Homo sapiens: one gene and its partner. The protein of the gene in region 1 interacts with the protein of each later gene in a biochemical or structural test. Each region holds a gene or a part of one and is shown on either strand. Other genes may lie near its edges. The genes, in order: ZNF701 and ZER1.

Evidence for each region.
Region 2: the proteins of ZNF701 (region 1) and ZER1 are reported together in a solved structure, tested with the Homo sapiens proteins (2 studies listed by BioGRID, with this or other methods).

What each region holds. Positions count from the first base shown.
Region 1 is NC_000019.10:52,565,699-52,573,486, reverse strand, and holds the start of ZNF701 (zinc finger protein 701), read right to left. Parts: upstream 3,201-7,788; 5' UTR 3,157-3,200; intron 2,824-3,156; exon of another isoform or gene 2,601-2,823; intron 1,251-2,600; exon of another isoform or gene 1,246-1,250; coding exon of another isoform or gene 1,119-1,245; intron 923-1,118; exon of another isoform or gene 809-922; intron 795-808; exon of another isoform or gene 277-794; intron 1-276. UniProt on the Homo sapiens protein: May be involved in transcriptional regulation.
Region 2 is NC_000009.12:128,747,794-128,755,060, forward strand, and holds part of ZER1 (protein zer-1 homolog), read right to left. Parts: intron 6,167-7,267; coding exon 6,016-6,166; intron 5,808-6,015; coding exon 5,371-5,807; intron 5,057-5,370; coding exon 4,880-5,056; intron 3,735-4,879; coding exon 3,620-3,734; intron 3,476-3,619; coding exon 3,329-3,475; intron 2,997-3,328; coding exon 2,823-2,996; intron 1,669-2,822; exon of another isoform or gene 1,565-1,668; intron 1-1,564. UniProt on the Homo sapiens protein: Serves as substrate adapter subunit in the E3 ubiquitin ligase complex ZYG11B-CUL2-Elongin BC. Acts to target substrates bearing N-terminal degrons for proteasomal degradation with the first four residues of substrates being the key recognition elements.

The DNA of each region.
Region 1 (7,788 bases):
GGTGGGAGGATTACTCAAGTTCAGGAGTTCAACAGCAGCCTGGCCAACATGGTGAAACCCCATATCTACTAAAAATACAAAAAGTAGCTGGGCTTGGTGGGCATTGGTAAGCCCAGCTACTCGGGAGGCTGAGGTTGGAGGATCGCTTGAACCTGGAAGGTGGAGGTTGCAGTGAGCCAAGATCGCACCACTGGACTCCAGCCAGGGCAACAGAGTAAGACTCAAAAATAAAATAAAATACAAATACAAAAATTAGCAGAGTATGGTGGCACACACCTGTAATCTCAGCTACTTGGGAGACTAAGGCACAAGAATTGCTTGAACTCAGGAGACAAAGGTTGCAGTGAGCCAAGATCACAAGACTGCACTCACAGCCTGGAGGACAGAGCGAGACTCTTTGGAAAAAGAAAAAAAGTGTGTTTCTGATGTGACTGACACAGAGATAATAAAACCTGAGTAATGTGATAGAGACTGATGGGCAGAGGGAAATTCAGTTGGGGGTGGGAGGGCATGGGAGACATTTCTGAGCCAGGACCTGAAGGAGAAAGGGACAGTGCTGTGAGCATTTAGAGAAATAGGGTAAGAGCAGTGAAAATGACCTGAGACGGGAAGGGTTTTGATGTTTGGGAAAAGAGAAAAGCAAATGTGACTGGGGCAGAGGGAGTCATGAGATGAGGGCAAGTTCCCAGGAGGAGCCTGGACAGTGGCAGGGGCCCTGGACACAGGGCTGTGGAGTGACAGTGAGGAGTTGGGCTTTTGTCCTGGGGAACACAGGAAGCCCATGGAGGGTTCCCTGCCAGGGACTGACATGATCTGCTTTAGATTTAGCTGTGACATCCTCAGAACGGGGACATTTTCACCGAGTCACGCTGAGAAGGTCTGAGATGAGTGAAAAGATGTAACGGAATTCTTACATGGTGGCCTGGAAGGGATAAAGGAAAGGGTTGGCCTTATCAAAACTATCCTTGAAAATTAGAGAAGCCTCTTTCACATACCTGGGATAAAGAAACTTCCTTTGCAAGTTCTGATGCCACTGATTCCCAACATTTAATTCTTCCTCACAAGAAAATTACAGTAACATTTATAAAATGCAGATGTACAAAGACACAGCTAGTTACCTTCAAAACAGGGAGGCTGAGTGCGGTGGCTCACACCTGTAATCCCAGCACTTTGGGAGGCCGAGGCAGGCGGATCACCTGATGTCGGGAGTTCGAGACCATCCTGACCAACATGGAGAAACCCCATCTCTACTAAAAATACAAAAATTATCTAGATGTTGTGGCACTTGCCTGTAATTCCAGCTACTCAGGAAGGCCGAGGCAGGACAATCGCTTAAAACCGGGAGGTAAAGGTGGTGGTGAGTAGGCCGGGCTCGGTGGCTCATGCCTATAATCCCAGCACTTTGGGAAGCCGAGGTGGGCAGATCACCTGAGGTCAGGAGTTCAAGACCAACCTGACCAATATGGAGAAACCCCATCTCTACTAAAAATACAAAATTAGCCTGGTGTGGTGGCACATGCCTGTAATCCCAGCTACTAGGGAGGCTGAGGCAGGAGACTCGCTTGAACTCGGGAGGTGGAGGTTGCAGTGAGCCGAGATCGCACCATTGCACTCCAGCACGGGCAACAAGAGCGAAACTCCGTCTCAAAAAAAAAACCAAAAAGGGTTGCGGTGACCCAAGATCACACCATTGCACTCCAGCCTGGGCAACAAGAGCGAAAGTGCATCTCAAAACAAACAAGCAAACAAACAAACAAAAAGCAGGGAAAGAGGGTCAGCTGTAGAACTAAGACATAAGCAAACTTTTTCAATCAAGAATGCTTGGGTGGCCAGGTGCGGTGGCTCACGCCTGTAATTCCAACACTTTGGGAGGTCGAGGCGGGTGGATCACCTGAGGTCAGGAGTTCGAGACCAGCCTGGCCAACATGGTGAAACCCCGTCTCTACTAAAAATACAAAAATTACCTGGGCTCCATCCTCACGTCTTATTTAATCTCTTGTTGCTCCTTCTCCCCAATTCTTCGATCGTCCTCAATCTCCATATATTTCCGCCTCTTATCCCATCTCTGCATCTCTGCCGCTCTCCCTGTTAAATTCTCTCTTCTCTGTTTTACCCCCCGTCCCCACTCTCTAGCACCCCAGATCCCCAGGCGTCCTCCCTGCTGTGGTTCTCCCTCTGTTCTCCTTGCCACCAGCACCACTCTGCTCTGTCTGCCCTGGCTCCAAATTCCTCCTCTCTCTCTCTCTCTCTCTCACTCTGATGAGCCTCCCTCTTTGCTGCCCCTCTCTACCTTGCTGTCTGTCCTTCATCTCTCTGTACATCTAGCTTTTCTCTACATTTCTCCAGTTGCTTTTCTCCTCCTGCTTTCTTATCTTTTTTTTTTCACTTTTGCTGTCTCTTGGCAAATCCCTCACCCATCCTCTACTTTGCCATCTGTTATGGGTCTTTCTCATTCTTCTTTTCTCTGTCTCAGGTTTTCTACTACTCTCTGTCTCCTGATCTCTTTAGCCCACACAATCACAGGAGGGTTTGAAGTAAGACGCCTGCATCCCAGAGAGGCTCATTTTTCAGGGGTTGGAGCTAGGCAGGCAAGAACACACCGTGTCACAGGACTGGCCCCTGGCACCTCCCCAACGCTGGCTCAAGGAAAGTGGTGACTGCTAAGGGGAGACTTGGGGTGCAGCAAGGCCCAGCATGAGGCGGGAGGTGGGGTGCGACGACGCCTTCGGTGGGGTCCACAAGATCCCAGCACCAGGCAGAGAACTCGGCCTCCCTGAGACTGGGATCGCGACGTTTGCGCTTCAGGCGCCTAAAGGTTGAGACTGGGAGGCGCCCAGGCGGAAATACACATCTCGGGTGAGGACTTTGAAAAGCGCGGGGAGGGAGGAGTTAAAAAACGGTTTTGAGCACAGAAACTACGCGATAGGAAGTGTATACAGCGCCCTGTAGCAGAAAGACTGGAGACGGGAACAGCCTCAGGGCGACTTTAAACACAAAAGGAAGCGACTTCCGGATTCCCAGGGGAACGTCTGCATTTGCTCTGGTTGAAGGAAGATGGGCGAGAATTTACAGGTCTGTGGTGACCCCACGTCCCAGGTACGGAAGTGCCGGGGATATGGGGAGTGCAGACTTAATACAACACAGAGCAAAACTCACCGCCGCGGTGCGACCTTCACTCCACGGGATCCGCTTCCTGGTCTGCGCGGATGTGTGCGCACAGGACTAAAGCCAGGCCTGGGTGGAGCCAACGAGAAGGTGGGCGGGGCCTGATCGAGGTAGAGGCGGGGCCCCAGGCGGAGAGACCTTGCCCTTTAGAACCGGCAGAGGGCGGGGCCGGGGCGGGACCTGTGCGTCTCTCAGCCTCGCTCCCAGCGACTCTATTTTTCGGGCTTTGGAGGCGAGAGCGGTCAGGAAGGCTGAAGCACGATTCGAAAGCCCTGGAATTGTCTGGAACGGGGATGCAAACAAGAATGTAAAATGCAAAGCCCTGCCTGGGCGGAACGTACAATTTCATGCTGACGGCCCACAGAACAGAACAGAAATCCTCTCCCTTTCTATTCTCCATTCACTCAGGAGGGAGAGTCCACCCTGTGCTCAGCTTCAGAGACTTCCCTAGGGCCTCCGCCTGGGATGCGCGACGGAGTGTTCAGGCCAGGGAGGAGTGAAGTCACCACCTACTGCTTAAACATAGCAGGAATGCGGCCAGGTGGGCGGGAGCCTGAGGGCCAGAGGCGGGAGGATCACTGAGCCTGGGGGTCCAGGCCAGCCTGGGCGACAAAGTAACACACCCTCCCGCAGGGCTCCCCTCATCGTCTCTTTTAATTTTTAAAATAAAATTTTGATTGTGTGAGATAGGGATACAACATTATTCTTTTCCATGTGGATATCCAGTTAATTGTCCCAGCACATTTGTGGAAGAGATCTATTACTTTCTTTTTTTTCTTTTCTTTTTTTTTTTAAGACGGAGTATTTCTCTGTCGCTCAGGCTGGAGTGCAGTGGTGACATCTCGGCTCACTGCAGCCTCTGCCTCCTGGGTTGAAGCGATTCTCCTGCCTCAGCCTCCGGAATAGCTGGCATTACAGGCACAGGCCACCATGCCCGGCTAATTTTTGTATTTTGGGTAGAGACGGGGTTTCACCATGTTGGCCAGGCTGGTCTCGAACTCCTGACTTCAAGTGATCCGCCTGCCTCGGCCTCCTGAAATGCTGGGATTACAGGCGTGAACCACTGTGCCTGGCCCAAGAAATACTCTTCACTTCGCTCTTAAATGTTGAGAAAATACAATTGAAAACTAAAAAAATCTTCCCCTAAATGAGAAATCATCTTCACGACGATAACAGAGAAAGAAATAAAAACTATTTTATTAATAAATAGGCCTTAGACCAGCATGTGATGGGAAATAGAGGACAGTTGAGAGGTTGAAAAGAGAGAAAGAAACTTCACTGTTCTATACAACCCAAATACATGTTTTCAAGATAAACACTGATCAGTCCTCAGGGAAGAGGACTTGACAACACCCTTGGTCACACATAATTCATCCTGGCTCTACTTGGTAATGGAGGTGACCATCTGTGTCAGCTAACTAGCATCATCCTGAGGGAGGGGGAGAAACCCTAACCCATGTATTTTTGGCAAGTGTGAGTTTTACAGCATGGCGGACAGGTGCCCTCTCTGGTGAGGCTCCTACAATCCAACAGAAACTGATGTCAGCAGTAAATAATGAAATTTAGAATACATTATTAATTATAGAGTTTATTTGGACACAAAGCATGAGAATAGCCACCTGGAAACCTCAACTCCAAATGAATGGGGTCAGCGTTCCCAAGTAGAGACATTAACATTTCACACACACAAGGAAATACAGAGAAGCTTTCCCAGAACCACCACATTTTCCATTCAAGTCCAGTGCATAGGCTGCGGCAGCTTGACTGGTGATGGAGTGATACACTTCAAGGAAGGTTACATTATCACTCCATAAGAAGGGACAATGATGCCAGGAGGTCTTATCTCTGGGGCTGCTTAGTTTTCCTAATTATTTACACGAAAACTTTTTAAAATTGATATTAGGAAACTAAATTGTATAGCACATTTTGTTTTGTTTTGTTTTGTTTTGGGAAGGCGTCCTGCTCTGTCGCCCAGGCTGGAATGCAGTGATGTGATCTCGGCTCACTACGACCTCCACGTCCTGGGTTCAAGCAGTTCTCCTGCCTCAGCCTCCCAAATAGCTGAAAATACAGGCGTGCGCCACCATGCCCGGCTAATGGCTTTGTATTTTCAGTAGAGACGGGGTTTCCCCATGTTGGCCAGGCTGGTTTCTAATTCCTGACGTCAGGCGATCCGCCCGCCTCAGCCTCCCAGAGTGCTGGGATTACAGGCCTGAGCCTGCATGCCTGGCCAGGAAAACTTGTAGAAGTTGCGCCTGCATGCCACCGGACTCAGGTTGCATGACCACGTTCCTCTCAAGGTTCCGAATTATTTAAAAGTCTGTAGCTTTAAATTTGAAATAGCTGATGTTTGAAATATTTAATTTCCTACTGACTTACAGGTACTATCTCCCTTGTTGCTTGCCTTTCAAGAAGAGATTCTAAGTCCTTCAGAAGTACATCTCTGGGTTATTATGCTGAAAAAAGGTTTAATTACTTTCTAAAATATTCTACTTCAGGCCGGGCGCGGTGGCTCAAGCCTGTAATCCCAGCCCTTTGGTAGGCTGAGGACGGCGGATGGCCTGAGGTCGGGAGTTCGAGACCAGCCTGACCAATATAGAGAAACCCCGTCTCTACTACAAATATAAAAATTAGCCTGGAGTGGTGGCATGAGCCTGTAGTCCCAGCTACTCCGGAGGCTGAGGCAGGAGAATCGCTTGAGCCCAGAAAATGGAAGCTGTGGTGAGCCATGATCATGACATTGTACTCCAGCCCAGGGAACTAGAGTGAAACTCAGTCTCAAAAACAAAATAATAATAATAATAATAATAATAATAATAATAATAATAATAATAAAAAATACAGCTGGACAAGGTGTCTCAAGCCTGAGCGAGACTCCGTCTTAAAAAAAAAAAGAAAAAAAAAAGAAAACTACCAGTTACACAGTAGGGCGACCTCAAAAACAAAGGGAACTGCCTTCTCTTAAAGTTTCTCTTACATAGGTGCTTAGGTAAAAACTAAGGTATGTCTACCTGCCAGTGGGCTGACAGTGTAACAAAACTTATTACTTTGTTGATTTAAAGCTATCCTTGGCCGGTTGCATTGGCTCCCGCCTGTAATTCTGGCACTTTGGAAGGCCGACGTGGGGGCATCACCTGAGATCAGGGGTTCGAGACCAGCCTTGCGAACGTGATGAAACCCCGTCTCTACTGAAAATTCAACGATTAGCCGGGGGTGGTGGTGCATGCCTGTAATCCTAGCTACTCAGGAGGCTGAGGCAGGAGAATCGCTTGAACCCGGAAGGTGGAAGTTGCAATGAGCCGAGATTGTCCTATTGCACTCCAGCCTGGATGACAAAAGTGAAGCTCCATCAAAAAAAAAAAAACACCTATCCTTGGTATTTTAGTGTGCAAGTACGTGAAAGCATGACTGTAATTAGCTTAGAAGCATACATTGTCATGGGATATTGGGTCATCTGGACATTGTGTTTATGTAGGAGTTTGTCCTTGCAGGTATGATTAAGCTGCTTTTCTTAACTGTAAACATCTTAAGACCATGAGTCATGCGTGAGCAGTAAGGAATGTATGTTGCTAGTTTTAATGGACTTGAACTTTGTCACCCTAGCTCCCCTAGGATCCTGTTTAACAGTTTATCCACTTATGCACCAGAGTCCTAAGCACAATTATGGAGACACCATCCTTTTGTAATGTATCTGACAGACTGAGCTTCTGCCCCAAGAACATAGTAATAGCAATACTAAGTGAAATATTATAAAGTTTTGTGTATCTATGTAATTATCTATTATTTGCGTTTTAAATTAGCTAAAGTTATATAGAATGGGTTTTTATTTCAATCTAATACTAGAAATATATCTTTTGGCCCAGCATAGTGGCGCATACCTGTAATCTCAGCACTTTGGGAGGCTGAGGCAGGTGGATCACCTGAGGTCAGGAATTCAAGACCAGCCTGACTAACATAATGAAACCCAGTCTCTACTAAATACAAAAGAATTAGCCGGGCATGGTGATGCATGCCTGTAATCTGAGCTACTTGGGGTGCTGAGACAGGAGAATCCGTAGTACCTGGGAGGCAGAGGTTTCAGTGATCCGAGATCGCACCATTGCACTCCAGCCTGGGCAACAAGATTGAAACTCCGTCTCAAAAAACAAAACAAAACAAACTATATATATATATATAAAATCTTTCACAAATGGACTCTAATCCCACAAAGTTGTAAAGCATTTCCCTATGGTGAATAAATATGAAGGAGTTGAGATTTTGGAACTGATTTGTGCTTTCCATTATACTCATTTTTTCCTTATTCTATCTTGATCTTTTCTGTGTTCATGAGCTTGTGATCCAAAAGTATCTACTAGGTCTCAATGAATTTAGAAATCTATTTTGCCAAGGTTAAAATGCACCCATGACACAGCCTCAGGAGGTCCTGATGACGTGTGCCCAAGATGTTCAGGCTGCAATTTACAAATTTAGGGTGACATGAGACATCAATCAATACATATAAGATACACCTTGGTTCGATCTGGGAAGGTGAAATAACTGGAATTGCGGGCTTCCAGGTCACAGGGAGATAACAAATGATCACATTGTTTGAGTCTTTGATCAACCTTTCATTGAATACACAAT
Region 2 (7,267 bases), on another chromosome or scaffold:
GTTTTAGTAGAGATAGGGTTTCACCATGTTGGCCAGGCTGGTCTGGAACTCCTGATCTTAAGTGATCTGCCTTCCTCGGCCCTCCAAAGTGCTGAGATTACAGGTGAGGGCCACCACACCTGGCTTAAGCATTAGATATCTTTTGTAATCAGAAAAGAAACATTATTAAACAATTTTTGGGCCTAGTGCAATGGCTCATGCTTATAATCCCAGCACTTTGGGAAACCAAGGCAGGAGGATCACTTGAGCTAGGGGATAGCAAGGGCAACACAGCGAGACCCCGTCACCACATACACACAGACACACACAAATACAAATTAGCTGACTGTGGGCCGGGCATGGTGGCTCATGCCTATAATCCCAGCACTTTGGGAGGCCGACGCAGGCGGATCATGAGGTCAGGAGATTGAGACCATCCTGGCTAACACAGTGAAACCCCGTCTCCACTAAAAATACAAAAACTTAGCGTGGCAGGGTGGCGGGCGCCTGTAGTCCCAGCTACTCGGGAGGCTGAGGCAGAATAGCGTGAACCTGGGAGGTGGAGCTTGCAGTGAGCCGAGATCGTGCCACTTAACTCCAGCCTGGGTGACAGAGCGAGACTCTGTCTCAAAAAAAAAAAAAAAAAAATTAGTTGGGTGTGGTGGTACATGCCTTGTTGTCCCAGCTACTGGGGAGGCTGAGTTGGGAGGCTTGCTTGAGCCTGAGAGGTGGAGGCCACAGTGAGCTGTGATCATGCCGCTATACTCCAGCCTTGGCAACAAAGTGAGACCCTGTGTATTTGTTTTTGTTTTTCTTTGTGACAGAGTCTCCCTCTGTCACCCAGGCTGGAGTTCGGTGGCTTGATCTCAGCTCACTGCAACCTCTACCTCCTGGGTTCCAGCAATTCTCCTGCCTCAGCCTCCCAGGTAGCTGGGACTACAGGCGCCTGCCACCATGCCCAGCTAATTTGTGTATTTTTAGTAGAGACAGGGTTTCACCACGTTGGCCAGGCTGGTCTCGAACTCCTGACTTCAGGTGATCCGCCTGCCTCAGCCTCCCAAAGTGCTGGGATTACAGGTGTGAGCCACCGTGGCCAGCTAATTTTTGTATTTTTTAGTAGAGATGGGGTTTCGCCATGTTGGCCAGGCTGGTCTCAAACTCCTGACCTCATGATCTGCCTGCCTCAGCCTCCCAAAGTGCTGGGATTACAGGCGTGAGCCACCACGCCCAGCCTGAGACCCTGTCTTAATTAAAATATATATATATATATTGTGGCTGAGCACGGTGGCTCACGCCTGTAATCCCAGCACTTTGGGAGGCCGAGGCAGGTGGATCACCTGAGCTCAGGAGTTCGAGACCAGCCTGGCCAACATGGCGAAACCCTGTCTCTACTAAAAATACAAATATTAGCCTGGCATGGTGGCACGTGCCTGTAGTCCCAGCCACTAGGGGGGCTGAGGCAGGAGGATCACTTGAACTCAGGAGGCAGAGATTGCAGTGAGCCAAGATTGTGCACTGCACTCCAGCCTGGGCGACAGAGTAAGACTCCATCTCGAAAAAATAAATAAATAAAAATTATTGTTTGATCCTTTCGTAGTTTATAAGAGTGATGATTAGGTCTTCATGCTCATGTGTGAAATGTGCCTCCCTCAAACCATGTTAGGACGTTGGCATATTGCCCATCTGAAATGAAAAAAAGTTTTTGTTATATAAATATGTTGGCTGGGTGTGGTGGCACATGCTTGTAATCCCAGCACTTTGGGAGGCTGAGGCAGGTGGATCACCTGAGGTCAGGAGTTCAACACCAGACTGACCAACATGGCAAAACCCCGTCTCTACTAAAAATACATAAATTAGGCAGGTGTGGTGGCATGCACCTGTAGTCCCAGCTACTTGGGAGGCTGAGGCAGGAGAATCACTTGAACCCGCCACTGCTCTCCAGCTTGGGCAACAGAGCAAGACTCCATCTGAAAAAAAAATTTGTTGGCTGGCCAGGCGCAGTGGCTCACATCTGTAATCCCAGCACTTTGGGAGGCTGAGGCAGGTGGATCACCTGAGGTCAGGAGTTCGAGACCAGCCTGACCAATATGGTAAAATCCCATCTTTACTAAAAATACAAAATTAGCCGGGCATGGTGGCGCATGCCTGTAATCCCAGCTACTCGGGAGGCTGAGACAGGAGAATCACTTGAACCCGGGAGGTGGAAGTTGCAGTGACCCGAGATTGTGCCATTGCACTCCAGCCTGGGCAATAAGAGTGAAACTCCATCTCAAAAAAGAAAAAAATTGTTGGCGGATAAGGGAGATGTTCATATTCATGTGACAACACAGTTGAAGTAAAAATCCACCATATACAAACAGTATGCAGTTTGTGTATCCCATTTACAAAATATGTGTGCATAGGCTAAAATTCACAATTGATATCCCATGTTAATGGTGCCTGTCTCTGGGTAGTGGGTTTATGGGTGATTTTTATTTTCTGTATATCTGTAATTATAACTTTTCTATAATAAAGGCTTTTATTACTTTTATATTAAAAGCAGCTGTTGGTAAGAAATCCCCCAGCAGAGTGTATGGGCAGAAGGGCTGAGGAGACGGCACAGGCAGGGAGAAGGGCAGGGTCCCTGGGCCCCCACCCCCACATGGGGCAGGGAGGAGGATGGAGGGCAGCCAGGAGTGATGGACTGTGGGAAGGGCCAGGTCCCAAGAGTCAGGGAGTGCTGCTGTGGGAAAGGGAGCTGGGACAGATGCAGCCCAGAGCCGGGGGAGCCCTAGCGGGACGCAAGAAGCAGGAAAGGGGTGGCTGGGCCAGAGCATGCGGGGCCGTGGCGGGTGGGGGCTCACCGTCACCTCCTGGTAGGATTCCATGCCATTCAGCACCACCTGGATAACCTGCCGGCGCAGCTTCACACTCTGCTCTGAGCGGTACTCGGAATTTGTTAGGTAGAAGAGAGCGGCGCTGCCTGTCACTTGAATGTTCCTGTCATATTTGTGGCACTTGAGGGCCGTGATGACCAGCTGTATGAAGACAAGGGGGACCTGGGCTGGCAAGTGCAGGGAGAGGCCTGGGCTCTGCAAGGGGCTGGAACAGGCTCTCTGGGGCAAGGTTTAGCCTGGTCTTGCTCTCTAAAGGCAGAAGTGGGGCCTGGGGAGCAGACACCAGGGTGGGGACCAAACAAGGCCAGTGCTGAAGCAAGTCAAGTGCTGTGAGGCCCAGGCTGGGGTTCGGGTCCTGGGGCCCTGGGGACAGGGTGCAGAAGGACACAGGCTCTGGGGACACGGCTCAGCCAAGCCCGGCAACCTCCAGGTGGGGAGGGACAGGAGGCCAAGGCCCCAGGCTTGGAGCTGACCTTCAGGGCCCGCAGCAGCTGGTTGCAACGCTCGATGCGGGCGATGTCAAAAAGCAAGTTGATGGCCCGCGAGGTGATCTCAGGCCGGTGCTCCGTGTAGGCCTCGATGGCATTCAGCACCTGCTCTTCGTTTTTGTCACCACTTACCTGCGGGTGGGACACGCTCAGAACAACCCAGCAGAGGCCAAGGGCTGGGATGCCAGATCCCAGCTCAGTCTCCAGCCCCAGAATCCAGCTCCTTCTCTCTCCCAAGGCTCCCTGGCCCAGACCCATCCCACTTCCACTGCTCACTTTGTAGGCTGGAATGTGCGTGAGGCGGCACAGAGAGTTCTCAAAGAGCCCGAGGAACTGCAGCGGCCTCTTCAGAGCCCGGAAAGGTATGATGCTGCTCTTGGAAGGCTCAATGCTGGGGAAAGAGGGTGCCGGTGTCAGTGGCTTGGGACCCAGGCCTGAGCTGGGCCTCCCCACTGGGGGTGGTGAGGCATTTCCTTGCTTTCTCTTCTAGGCCCTCCAACCTCATCCCCTACTCCTTTTGTTTTTAATGGTAGGGGACATAAGCACCACCTCCTGATGGAAGCATGGCAAAGCCACATAGTAGGGGAACACATAGGATGGGCAATGCAGCCACCTTTAGAAACCACCTGCCATTCTAGTAAGGACATGGCACCTTTAGGTCTCACCAACAATCACAAAGGGACAAGCTCAACTGAACACCATTAAAGCAGGCTGGGGCCAGGGCTTATGGGTGGCCAGTTACAGCTGGTAGGGTTTGGTCAAACTTCTCAACCAACCAATCCAAGAACCGACCTATGTCCAGCAATACTCCATAGGTGGCAGACACTGCCAGCCTTGCCTCTTCCCCCCATGGCACTGTGCTCTGGTCAGGCTGAGTGTTGGGTAGTTCCCCTGTCGCTCCTCATGCTCTCACCTACTGGCCTTTGCAGGTGCTGTTCCCTCTGCTAGAACACGCTTCCTCTGGCAGAGGCAGAATGAGCTTTCAGGACAGCCAGGATGCGTCCCTCCTCCTCCTTCCTTCCTGATCCTCAGGCCACACCGGGGCCCTGGATTGCCCCTACCATAGCCCTTGTAATGACTTGATTGTCCCCACCAGCTCACACAGCCTCCAAGAGGGCAGGACCTGATTTGTTTCTTTATCTCTAGCACCCAGCACAGCACTTGGCAGAGGGGTACTTGGCAAATACTTTCTTTTTTTTTTTTTTTGAGACAAAGTCCCACTTTGTTGCCTAGGCTGGAGTGCAGTGGCGCGATCTCAGCTCACTGCAGGCTCCGCCTCCCGGCTTCAATTCTCATACCTTAGCCTCCCAAGTAGCTGGGACTACAGGTGTCTGCCACCATGTCCAGCTAAATTTTGTATTTTTAGTAGAAATGGGGTTTCACCATGTTGGCCAGGCTGGTCTCTAACTCCTGGCCTCAAGTGATCCGCCCATCTTGGCTTCCCAAAGTGCTGGGATTACAGGCGTGAGCCACTGCGCCAGCCTAAATGCCTGTTGAATGACACCCTACCAGTAGCCATGGAGGCTGGGGCCCCACCTGGTCTGCCCCGCTTCCTCTTCCATCTTGGAGATGCTGCAGTTCTCTAGGATCATGTGGCCAGAGATGTCCAGGGACATTAGGTTCCCCAGCTTCTGCACAAAGAGGCTCAGCACCTCCCGAGTCAGCTTGAACTTGTAGTAGCTGGAGAGGCGGTCTCGGGAGATGTCCAGGTGTCTGAAGATTGGGGTAGGGGGTGCAGGTTAGGAGCTGGGTACAGGGTGGGGCTGCCTTGCAGATCCCAGCTCCTTTAGTCTGTAGCAGGGGAGGGCCCATTCCTGCCACAACTTCCCCAGGGCATTCTGGGAAGAAACCCCAAACAGCCCCAATCCAGCTGAAACACTGGGTTTAAGGAATGGGACTGTGTCTTCATCCCCACCCTCTGCCTAGCCAAGCGCTCCTGAACCCTGAGGGCGTGACAACACCCACCTCTACTCCTCCCCACCTGCCCCCCAAACCCCACCCTGGTGAGCTCTGGGCCAGGAGCTCACCGCAGCTTGTGCAGCTGCACGATGACCCGGATGTGGTCGTCGGACAGGTCCATGTTGTAGAGGACGAGGGACACCAGGCTGTCTTTCCACTGGGTGAGGAAGGCGGCGTCGCTCGTCTGAATGCCTGAGAGGTCCAAGGCAGCCAGGGAGTTAAGCGGCCGCAGCAGGGACTCCACAGGGACCCAATCAATCATGCGGCCCAAGTTGAGGAAGCGGAGGCGGCTGAAGCCCTCGAAGGTGAAATCCTTAACCAGCACCTGGCAGGTGGGGTTGACGAGGTACTCATCTTCACAGCCCCCTGGGTTCTCCTCCTCATAGAAAATGTTTGTACAGCCGAAGAGGCTCAAGGACACCAGGGTGTGGCTGAAGCTCCTCAGTGTCTGCAGGCTCTTGGCGGACAGCTTCTCGCAGTTAGTCAGGTACAGCTCCACCAGGTCCTGGGAGTGGGCACAGCTCCATCATCATCACCACCCTTGCCCCTTCCCCCGGCCCCAGGCCTTGCCCTGGGCTACAGGTGGGTTGGAAAGGGGGATGTGCACAGTCACGGTGCACACTGGCTGGGCTGGGGATGGCTGGGCTGGAGGCGAGCAGCCTGGCCCCTGCTTGGTGTGGGCCCTCCTGGCGCTGTGGCGGGGCAGGTCTCACCTGCTTGCGGATGGCCTCCAGGTCCTGGTCCTGCACCAGGTCCTCACGGAGGTGGATCCGCGTGAGGCGGGTGCTGCGGGGGTCCGAAAAGAGGCTGAAGAAGCTCTCGTGTGGCTCGAAGTTACAGGCAGCGTTCACCAGCTCCACATACCTGGGAGAGAAAAAAGCCTGGCTCAGGAGAGGGCCACAGGGACTCTCATCCTCGCTTCAAAGCCAAGCCCTCCTCCCCCTGAAGCTTTCTTGGATCACCCCAAGTAGCAACCTCCTTCTCCTAAGAGTATCTGGTCAGATCCTGACTAAACTACCAGTAAGATTAAGGGTGCCCAGGAACCAGGAATCTAAAGGCAGCTCTCTGGGAGACCTTCTAGGTGATGCAGGCGCCATCTCTCCCAGTGCACATGCCTGTCACACAGCCTCCACGCACGCACACTGCAGGGGCAGCAGCCCCACTGGCATGGCCACTCTCGTCACCTTCTTTAAGCCCCTCCTGCGACCCTTTTAAACAGGCAAACTAAGCCAAGTAGTTCAGAGTTCCCAGCTGGGTACAGGACAAGCCCTTAATGAAGCCCTGTTGAGACATCAGCTCATGCAAGAATCCTGGTCTGCTGGGAAATGCTTTGGATTCAAACGCTTTAGACTCTAAATCTTGGCTTGGCTGCTTCCTACCTGGGCAACTTCACACAAGTAAATGAACTTTCCCAGACCTCAGTTTCTTCATCTGTAAAGTGGATATAACTATGGCCTGCAAAGTGTCCAACCTAAAGCCTGACCCACGGTAAATGCTCAGGACGTTATTACAGGTCCACCTCTGTCCTCAGGCCCACACAGGCTTCTAGTTTCCTATGCAGCTGTCTAATAATTTCCCTTCTGGGAATCTTTTTCTTTTTTTTTTTTTGGTAGAGACAAGGTCTCGCTATGTCACCCAGGCTGATCTTGAATTTCTGGTCTCAAGTGATCCTCCTGTCTTGGCTTCCCAAAATGCTGGAATTACACGTGTGAGCCACCATGCCTGGCCACCATCTGGGCCTGTAGATTGAACTCCCAGCATTCAGTGACTGCATAGCATGCTTCTAGGAGCCCCTAGGAGTGGGGAGGCCCTCGGAGGGCCATTCAGATTTTCTGGATGATTCACTCCCTGATCATGGATCCGTTATTCTGGCACCGGCATGTACATGCATATGTGGCCATGCTCACTGAATTCACAAGCACAGGTATGTGCATGTGAATGTACATACACGTGTGGGGCAACACT